2 linked regions of the Homo sapiens genome follow. The protein of the gene in region 1 purifies or fractionates together with the protein of each later gene. This does not show direct contact. Each region holds a gene or a part of one and is shown on either strand. Other genes may lie near its edges.

Evidence for each region.
Region 2: the proteins of PRRX1 (region 1) and GTF2I purify together in Homo sapiens (co-purification; one study listed by BioGRID). This does not show direct contact.

Annotation. Positions count from the first base shown.
Region 1 is NC_000001.11:170,722,813-170,726,632, forward strand, and holds part of PRRX1 (paired mesoderm homeobox protein 1), read left to right. Parts: intron 1-3,407; coding exon 3,408-3,589; intron 3,590-3,820. UniProt on the Homo sapiens protein: Master transcription factor of stromal fibroblasts for myofibroblastic lineage progression. Orchestrates the functional drift of fibroblasts into myofibroblastic phenotype via TGF-beta signaling by remodeling a super-enhancer landscape.
Region 2 is NC_000007.14:74,660,673-74,664,492, reverse strand, and holds part of GTF2I (general transcription factor II-I), read right to left. Parts: intron 1-3,820. UniProt on the Homo sapiens protein: Interacts with the basal transcription machinery by coordinating the formation of a multiprotein complex at the C-FOS promoter, and linking specific signal responsive activator complexes.

The sequences.
Region 1 (3,820 bases):
TATGGGCTTTGATACCCGGACAAAGCGGGGAAGAATATAATAGGCAAAGGAAATATCCGGTGTGAATATTTTTAGGTAGGAAAGGGCCTAACACATTTAGGAGTCCACAGGTAATTTTGAGCACAGGGTAGGAGCTGGAGCTCTAGAGGGCCAGTGTATGAGGTTAGAGTGATGTGGTTTGTGGCTGGATTGATGGACAAAGAGCTAATTCCTGAACAGCCTTAGTTCTATGGTTAAGAAGTTTTTATTTTATTCTGTGAGTAACGGGGAGCCAGTAGATGATATAAAACGAGGCAATAAGGTGATTGTATTAACATTTAAGATGATAGCTCTAAGAGCAATGTGAAGGCACATTAGAAACAGAAGAGCCAGGAGTGTGGGAAGCCAAGTCCAGATTCCACCTTGGCCAATTTCCACCCAGGCCCTTCATGCTGCACAGCTCTACAGGGCACTGATCACGTGGTAATTTATGTGTATGTTGGCCCCTCGAGCTGTACAACTGCTCACTCCACAAAAAGAATTTTCTTCTCCCATACCTTGTTATACATTTCTATAATTGCACTTAAAATACTTGTTTTGTAGTTTTTCAAATTTACATGTCTTCATTTAATAGGTTTTGATCTGCTTAAAAGCAGAGAATAAGTTTCTCATCTCTCTCTTTCCAGCATTTAGTACTGGGCCTGGACCATAGCAGGTGCTCCATAAAGATTTCTTGAATGAGTAAATGAATGAGTAGAATTCCATAGCACTCTAGAAGAGTTGTATGATCATGAATTGGATGTCCTTGACTTCAGAAACTCAGCCATTTATTATTTATGTGAATTTCAACAGATTACAGTCATACAATGCTTAACAATGGGGATCTGTTCTGAGAACTGCATTTTTAGGTAATTTTGTCATTGTGCAAACATCATGGAGTCTACTTACACAAATCTAGATGGTATAACTGACTGCACACCTAGGCTATAGGGTATAGCTTATTGCTCTTAGGTCACAAGCCTGTACAGCATATTACTCTACTGAATAGTGTAGGCGATTGTAATACCATGGTAAGTATTTGCGTATCTAATCATATCAAATAGCAAAAATTTGGTATTATAATTTAATGAGACCACTGTCGTATATGAGGTCCATCATATGTGGTGCATGACTGTATTTAATCTCATTGAAATTGCTTCCTCAACTGTAAAATAGAAATAATAAAACCTAATACGTGGAATTGTCATGTTGACTAGAAATAATGTATGTAGTGTGCTTATATAAGTTCCTAGCCCTGGTAACACTTAAAAAACAATATCGTTTGCCCACTTTTTCATGGGATTGTTTGTTTTTTTCTTATAAATTTGTTTAAGCTCCTTGTAGATTCTGGATATTAGACCTTTGTCAGATGGATAGATTACAAAAATCTTCTCCCATTCTGTGGGTTGCCTGTTCACTCTGATGATAGTTTATTTTTCTGTGCAGAAGCTCTTTAATTAGATCCCATTTGTCAATTTTTGCTTTTGTTGAAATTGTTTTTGACGTTTTCATCATGAAATCTTTGCCCATGCCTATGTCCTGAATGATATTGCCTGTATTTTCTTCTAGAGCTTTTATAGTTTGGGGTTTTATACTTAAGTTTTTAATTTATCTTGAGTTAATTTTTGTATATGGTGTAACAAAGAGGTCCAGTTTCAGTTTTCCGCATATGGCTAGCCAGTTCTCCAAGCACCATTTATTAAATAGGGAATCCTTTCCCCATAGCTTGTTTTTGTCAGGCTTGATGAATATCAGATGGTTGTAAATGTACAGTCTTTTCTGAGTTCTCTATTCTGTTCCATTGGTCTGTGTGTGTGCTTTTGTACTAATACCACGCTGTTTTGGTTACTGTAGCCTTGTAGAATAGTTTGAAGTCAGATAGTGTGATACCTTCAGCTTTGCTCTTTTTGTTGAGGATTGTCTTGGCCATACGGGCTCTTTTTCGTTCTATATAAATTTTAAAGTAGATTTTTCTAATTCTGTGAACAATGTGAATGGTAATTTGATGGGAATAGCATTAGATCTATAAATTACTTTGGATGTATAGCCATTTTTGTGATATTGATTCTTCCTATCCATGAGCATAGAATGTTTTTCCATTTGTTTGTGTCCTCTCTGATTTCCTTGAGCAATGGTTTTTAGTTCTCCTTGAAGAGGTGCTTTACTTCTCTTCTTAGCTGTATTCCCAGGTTTTTTATTCTCTTTGTAGCAATTGTGAATGGGAGTTCATTCATGATTTGGCTCTTTGCTTTTCTGTTGTAGGTGTATAGGAATACTTGTGATTTTTGCATACTGATTTTGCACCCTGAGACTTTGCTGAAGTTGCTTATCAGCTTAAGAAGTTTTTGGGGTGAGACGATAGGGTTTTCTAGATACAGGATCAGGTCATCTGCAAACAGAGACAGTTTGACTTATGTAGCAAACCTGCACATCCTGCACACGTATCCCAGAACTTATAAAATAAAATAAAAATAAATAAAATTAAATTATAGGTTTATTATTAGTTGTAGCAAATGCTGTCAGTGCTGTCCATTTCCCTTGAACCCTACAATTAGGTGTAGTCTGGTCAGCTTCCAACTTTCAGTGCCTGCATTTCTGTGCCAGCAGTTTCTTCCTAGAACTTCAGGAGAGTGCCCTGCCTTCAGCATTCTAGAAGTGCTGGAACATTAATAGACAATGACTGACAGGATCCAGTGTACACACACCCAGCTCTATCACCTCCAAGAGGGATAACTCTGAAGTGTGTGTTCTACGTTAGTCTTAGTCTTCAGGTTCTCTGCAGGATTGAGCTACCACAGAGATAGCTGGTTTAGTAGTACACCCTTTAGTGGTTGCCTTTTCATCTCTGTTACTTCCTTGCTCCCCAAATGGTGGTCTTTGCACCTCCCAAATAAAACATTTCCTTCTTAAATCTTTGTTGGAACATCTACTTTTGGGAGATGGGGAATTTTCTTAAAATATAATTATTATGAAAGCAGATGAAATTTTCACATTTTGAAGAATTTTGAAAAAGCTTTTAGAAAAGTCATTATTTCTGTGGCAGAAGCCTAATGAGATTTTTCTTCACTTTTCTTGATTACAATTGTAACAGGGATTATAACCCATATTTTGCTGTCCCGTGGGTAAGTCACAGATCCCATATCTGGAGACCTGATTACTGGAGAATTTCATGGTCTTGTTGTAATAGTCTTGACCTTTAAGAATGGCCCTCATTGAGGGAAGGCGGATGGCATGTTTCTATTGTTCTACGGAGAATTCCATAGCCATCTTATATCTTCTTTGGGAAGGCATTATATAGTAAAATCAAGCAGAATTTCATTCATGTAACCCCTTCTTCTTTGTTTTTCCTCTCTTTCCTTATGCCTTCTTGCCTCCTAACAATCCTCCAGGTGTGGTTTCAGAACCGAAGAGCCAAGTTCCGCAGGAATGAGAGAGCCATGCTAGCCAATAAAAACGCTTCCCTCCTCAAATCCTACTCAGGAGACGTGACTGCTGTGGAGCAGCCCATCGTACCTCGTCCTGCTCCGAGACCCACCGATTATCTCTCCTGGGGGACAGCGTCTCCGTACAGGTGAATGACTGGCCCACTCTCCCTTGCTCCACTTCCACATGTTTCTCAGCGGTCGGTCATGTTTCAAGCTGCTTGTGCAGCTCACCGACATTTCTTACTGGGTTAATCTCTTCAGAGACATTCAACTTGCTGACATCCCCACATTTTCCCAGGAGATTATAAGCTGCCCCAGCAGCAGGGTTTGGGGCAGAAGTGAGAGGGGCAGGCTATCTCACCAATCTCCTCTTGGAC
Region 2 (3,820 bases), on another chromosome or scaffold:
CATTGCACTTTAGCCTGTGCGACAGAGGGAGACTCCTTCTCAAAAAAACAAAAACAGAAACAAGTTACAACCAAAGGAGAATGAGTCAATCCTCCAACAACTCTGACAGTTCCTGGCTATACTGAACTTTCTCTTACTTTCTCAGTAGGCCAAAGTGGTAAAAAGCAAATGAGTACTGCCAGAAACAGGCATGGAATACCAAAACAAGAATTTTACAGAGGAGAAAACAAACAGGAAGACAGCAGGGAGAGTTCCAGAACAAAAGGACAACAGTAAAGGACGACAGGGCAAGAATGGAGAATGAAGAATTATCAAGACAATACCTTCACCTCTTCCGATGACGTACCCACACAATTTTTACAGGATACACACATCCTTGGCTGGGTGCGGTGGCCCAGCACTTTCGGAGGCCAAGGCGGGCAGATCACCTGAGGTCAGGAGTTTGAGACCAACCTGGCCAACACGGTGAAACCCCGTCTCTACTAAAAATACAAAATTAGCCGGGCATGGTGGCGGGTGCCTATAGTCCCAGCTACTTAGGAGACTGAGGCAGGAGAATCGCTTGAACCCAGGAGGCGAAGGTTGCAGTGAGCCAAGATCACGCCACTGCACTCCAGCCTGGGTGACAAAAGCGAGACTCTGTCTCAAAAATAAATAATAATAAAATAAAATGCAATAAAAAAACACACATCTTCTAAGACACTAAGGCGTTTTGCTCCCCCAGGTAGGTAGCCCCAATACACTTTAGTTAACCGAGTATGAGTCTTCATAGAGCTATGCTGCCAGCTTAAGCCTACTGATTCCCAAGTATCTCAACTCTACAATTAGAATAAGCAACTGATTAGGTGTATTTTCTACTTTCTTTCAGTTATTAACAATGAATAACCTTCACTCAATAAACGAACCAGGCGCAGTGGCTCACGCCTGTAATCTCAGCACTTGGGGAGGCCGAGGTGGGTGGATCACTTGAGGTCAGGAGTTGGAGACCACCAGCCTGGCTAACATGGTGAAACCCCATCTCTATGAAAAATACAAAAAAATTAGCTGGGCATGGTGGCACATGCCTGTAATCCCAGCTACTCGTGAGGCTAAGGCACAAGAATCGCTTGAGCCCGGGAATCGGAGGTTGCAGAGAGCTGAGATGGCACCACTGCACTCCAGCCTGGGCCACAGAGCGAGACTCCATCTCAAAAAAATAAATAAATACTTTCCCTTAGACTGACATAAAAATGATTTGACATCCATCTATTTAAGCCAGTGGTAAAACAATTTCGTGTTAATTATACCACCCCAGTTATGAAGCATATTGCAAAAACTCATGTTTATATAAAACATTCATGTCATCAACAAAGAATGAAACAACAGTAGAAATGAATTAGGTGAAATGCAATGCAAATAGCTGGTAACCAGTAATAACAGAAAAGGTTAAGTGTTTAGTAATTGTTCAGTGTTCAGCTCCTTTAGATGATAACAACCTGTCCACCTATGGGTCATCGAAAATGCCAGAACATAGGACAGTGGCCATGGAAGTTGGGATCCCCTGAGGAGTGTGTACAACTCGCCTAAGGGTGTAGGTGGGGAAAGGAGGGGGGTCATCAACTGTAAACTAAAACCATTCCTCCCACCTATCTGCGGTTATTTTCCCCGGAAAGAAATCCATTATAATTTTAAAAACCTAAAAATCACAGGGCGCCTGTAAGCCCAACACTTTGGGAGGCCTAGGCGGGCAGATCACAAGGTCAGGAGTTGGAGACAAGCCTGGCCAGCATGATGAAACCCCGTGTCTACTAAAAATACAAAAAATTAGCCAGGCGTGGTGGTGCGTGCTTGTAATCCCAGCTACTCAGGAGGCTCAGTCAGGAGAATCACTTCAACCCAGGAGGCAGAGGTAGCAGTGAGCCGAGACCACGCACCTACACTCCCGCCTGGGCGATAGAGCAAGACTGTGTCTCAAAAAAAAAAAAAAAAAAAAAAAAAAAAAGGGTCCAGGTGCAGTGGCTCACGCCTGTAATCCCAGCACTTAAGGAGGCCAAGGCAGGCGGATCACCTGAGGTCAGGAGTTCGAGACCAGCCTGACCAACATGCAGAAACCCCGTCTCTACTAAAAATACAAAGTTAGCCAGGCATGGTGGCGCATGCCTATGATCCCAGCTACTCCGGAGGCTGAGGCAGGAGAATCACTTGACCCTGGGGGGGCGTAAGTTGCAGTGAGCTGATTGTGCCATTGCACTCCAGCCTGGGCGACAGAGTGAAACTCCATCAAAAAAAAAAAAAAAAAAAAAAAAAAAGAAAGAAAAAACCTAAAAATCTTTCTCAGCAAGAATTGCCCCCAACCCCGTCCCGCAAAAAGAACCCCCAAAGCCTACATTTTAATGTCAGTCTCTGTAGTCATATTTGAGTAAGCTGAATCGCTGGAGGGGCATGTGGCAGAGGAGACTCAGCACACAATGCTCCCCAACCCCCCTACCTCCAAGGGCCAAAACTACAAGCTGTGGTCCTATCACTCAAACCTTCTGTGTGGTGGTGTGGCAGACTTTGGGCATCTGAAGAGGATAATGTAACAAATGCCCGTGCTGCGACTAAATTAATAAATAAATCAGAGTGGGAAAAAAGCCAAACTTCCAAAGATTTCCCATTTTATTCCACACTTAAATCCATGGCCCCTTTTTAAACTGGAGACTTATGAAACTTTTAACTTTTCTAATCATGGCTAACAGGAATTCTCAACTCTCAGCCAGTTTTCTGAGCAATCTACCGTCAGTCGTCCGAATTATTTTTCATTCTTTAACATCTATTTTATTTTTATTTTTTTTGAGACACAGTCTCGCTCTGTCGCCCAGGCTGGAGTGCAGTGGTGAGATCTCATCTCACTGCAACCTCCACCTCCTGGGTTCAAGAGATCCCCCTGCCTCAGCCTCCCCAAGTAGCTGAAACTACGTACGCACGCCACCACACCCGGCTAATTTTTGTATTTTTAGTACAGACGGGGTTTCGCCATGTCGGCAGGCTGGTCTCCAACTCCTGACTTCAGGTGTTCCACCTCCCTCGGCCTCCCAAAGTGCTGGGATTACAGGTGTGAGCCACCGCACCCGGCCAAGATCTAATTTTAAAGTAAGAAAAAGCAAATATCTCCAATAAATTTCTCTCCCTTCATTTTGCACCATTGTGAATGGTTCTCAAAGGGCTGTCCGGGAAGCAGCCACCATCAACACCACCTGGGGAGCTAATCGAAATGCAAATTGTGGGGCAACTCCCCAGACCTGCAGAATCAGCCTGGGAGGTAGGGCCCAGCAAGCAGAGTCCGCACATGCCAGCTCTCCCGGGGACGCCCAGGCGCGGTGGTTTCACAACCTCGGCTTAGGGGTTGAGTCACACTGGCCAGGTTCATGTGCTAGGCAAGCAAGAGTACAGAACTCTCCAACTTCTCTAGACTTGTTCCGCTCTATAGAATAGAATTACAGACTTGTCACAAAGATTAAATAAGAAAAATACTGTACATCCAAAGCGCTCAAGAGCCATGGAGGGGGCACGGAAGACACTCAAATGTAAGCAGCATTGCTACCACCGGCAAGGCACGAGGACGATGCCAAACTGGAGGGGGAAGTGGAGGGAGAAAGACATAGGAGGAAAAGGCTTCTTGTCCCTGCCCCTACGAGCTCAACACCCAGTGACTAGGCCAGATGCAGAGGAAAGTAAAAGTGCCCTTAGCCGGGCGTGGTGGAGCGCTCCTGTAATCCCAGCTACTCAGGAGTCTGAAGCAGGAGAATCGCTTGAACCCGGGAGGCGGAGGTTGCAGTGAGCCGAGATCGCGCCACTGCAC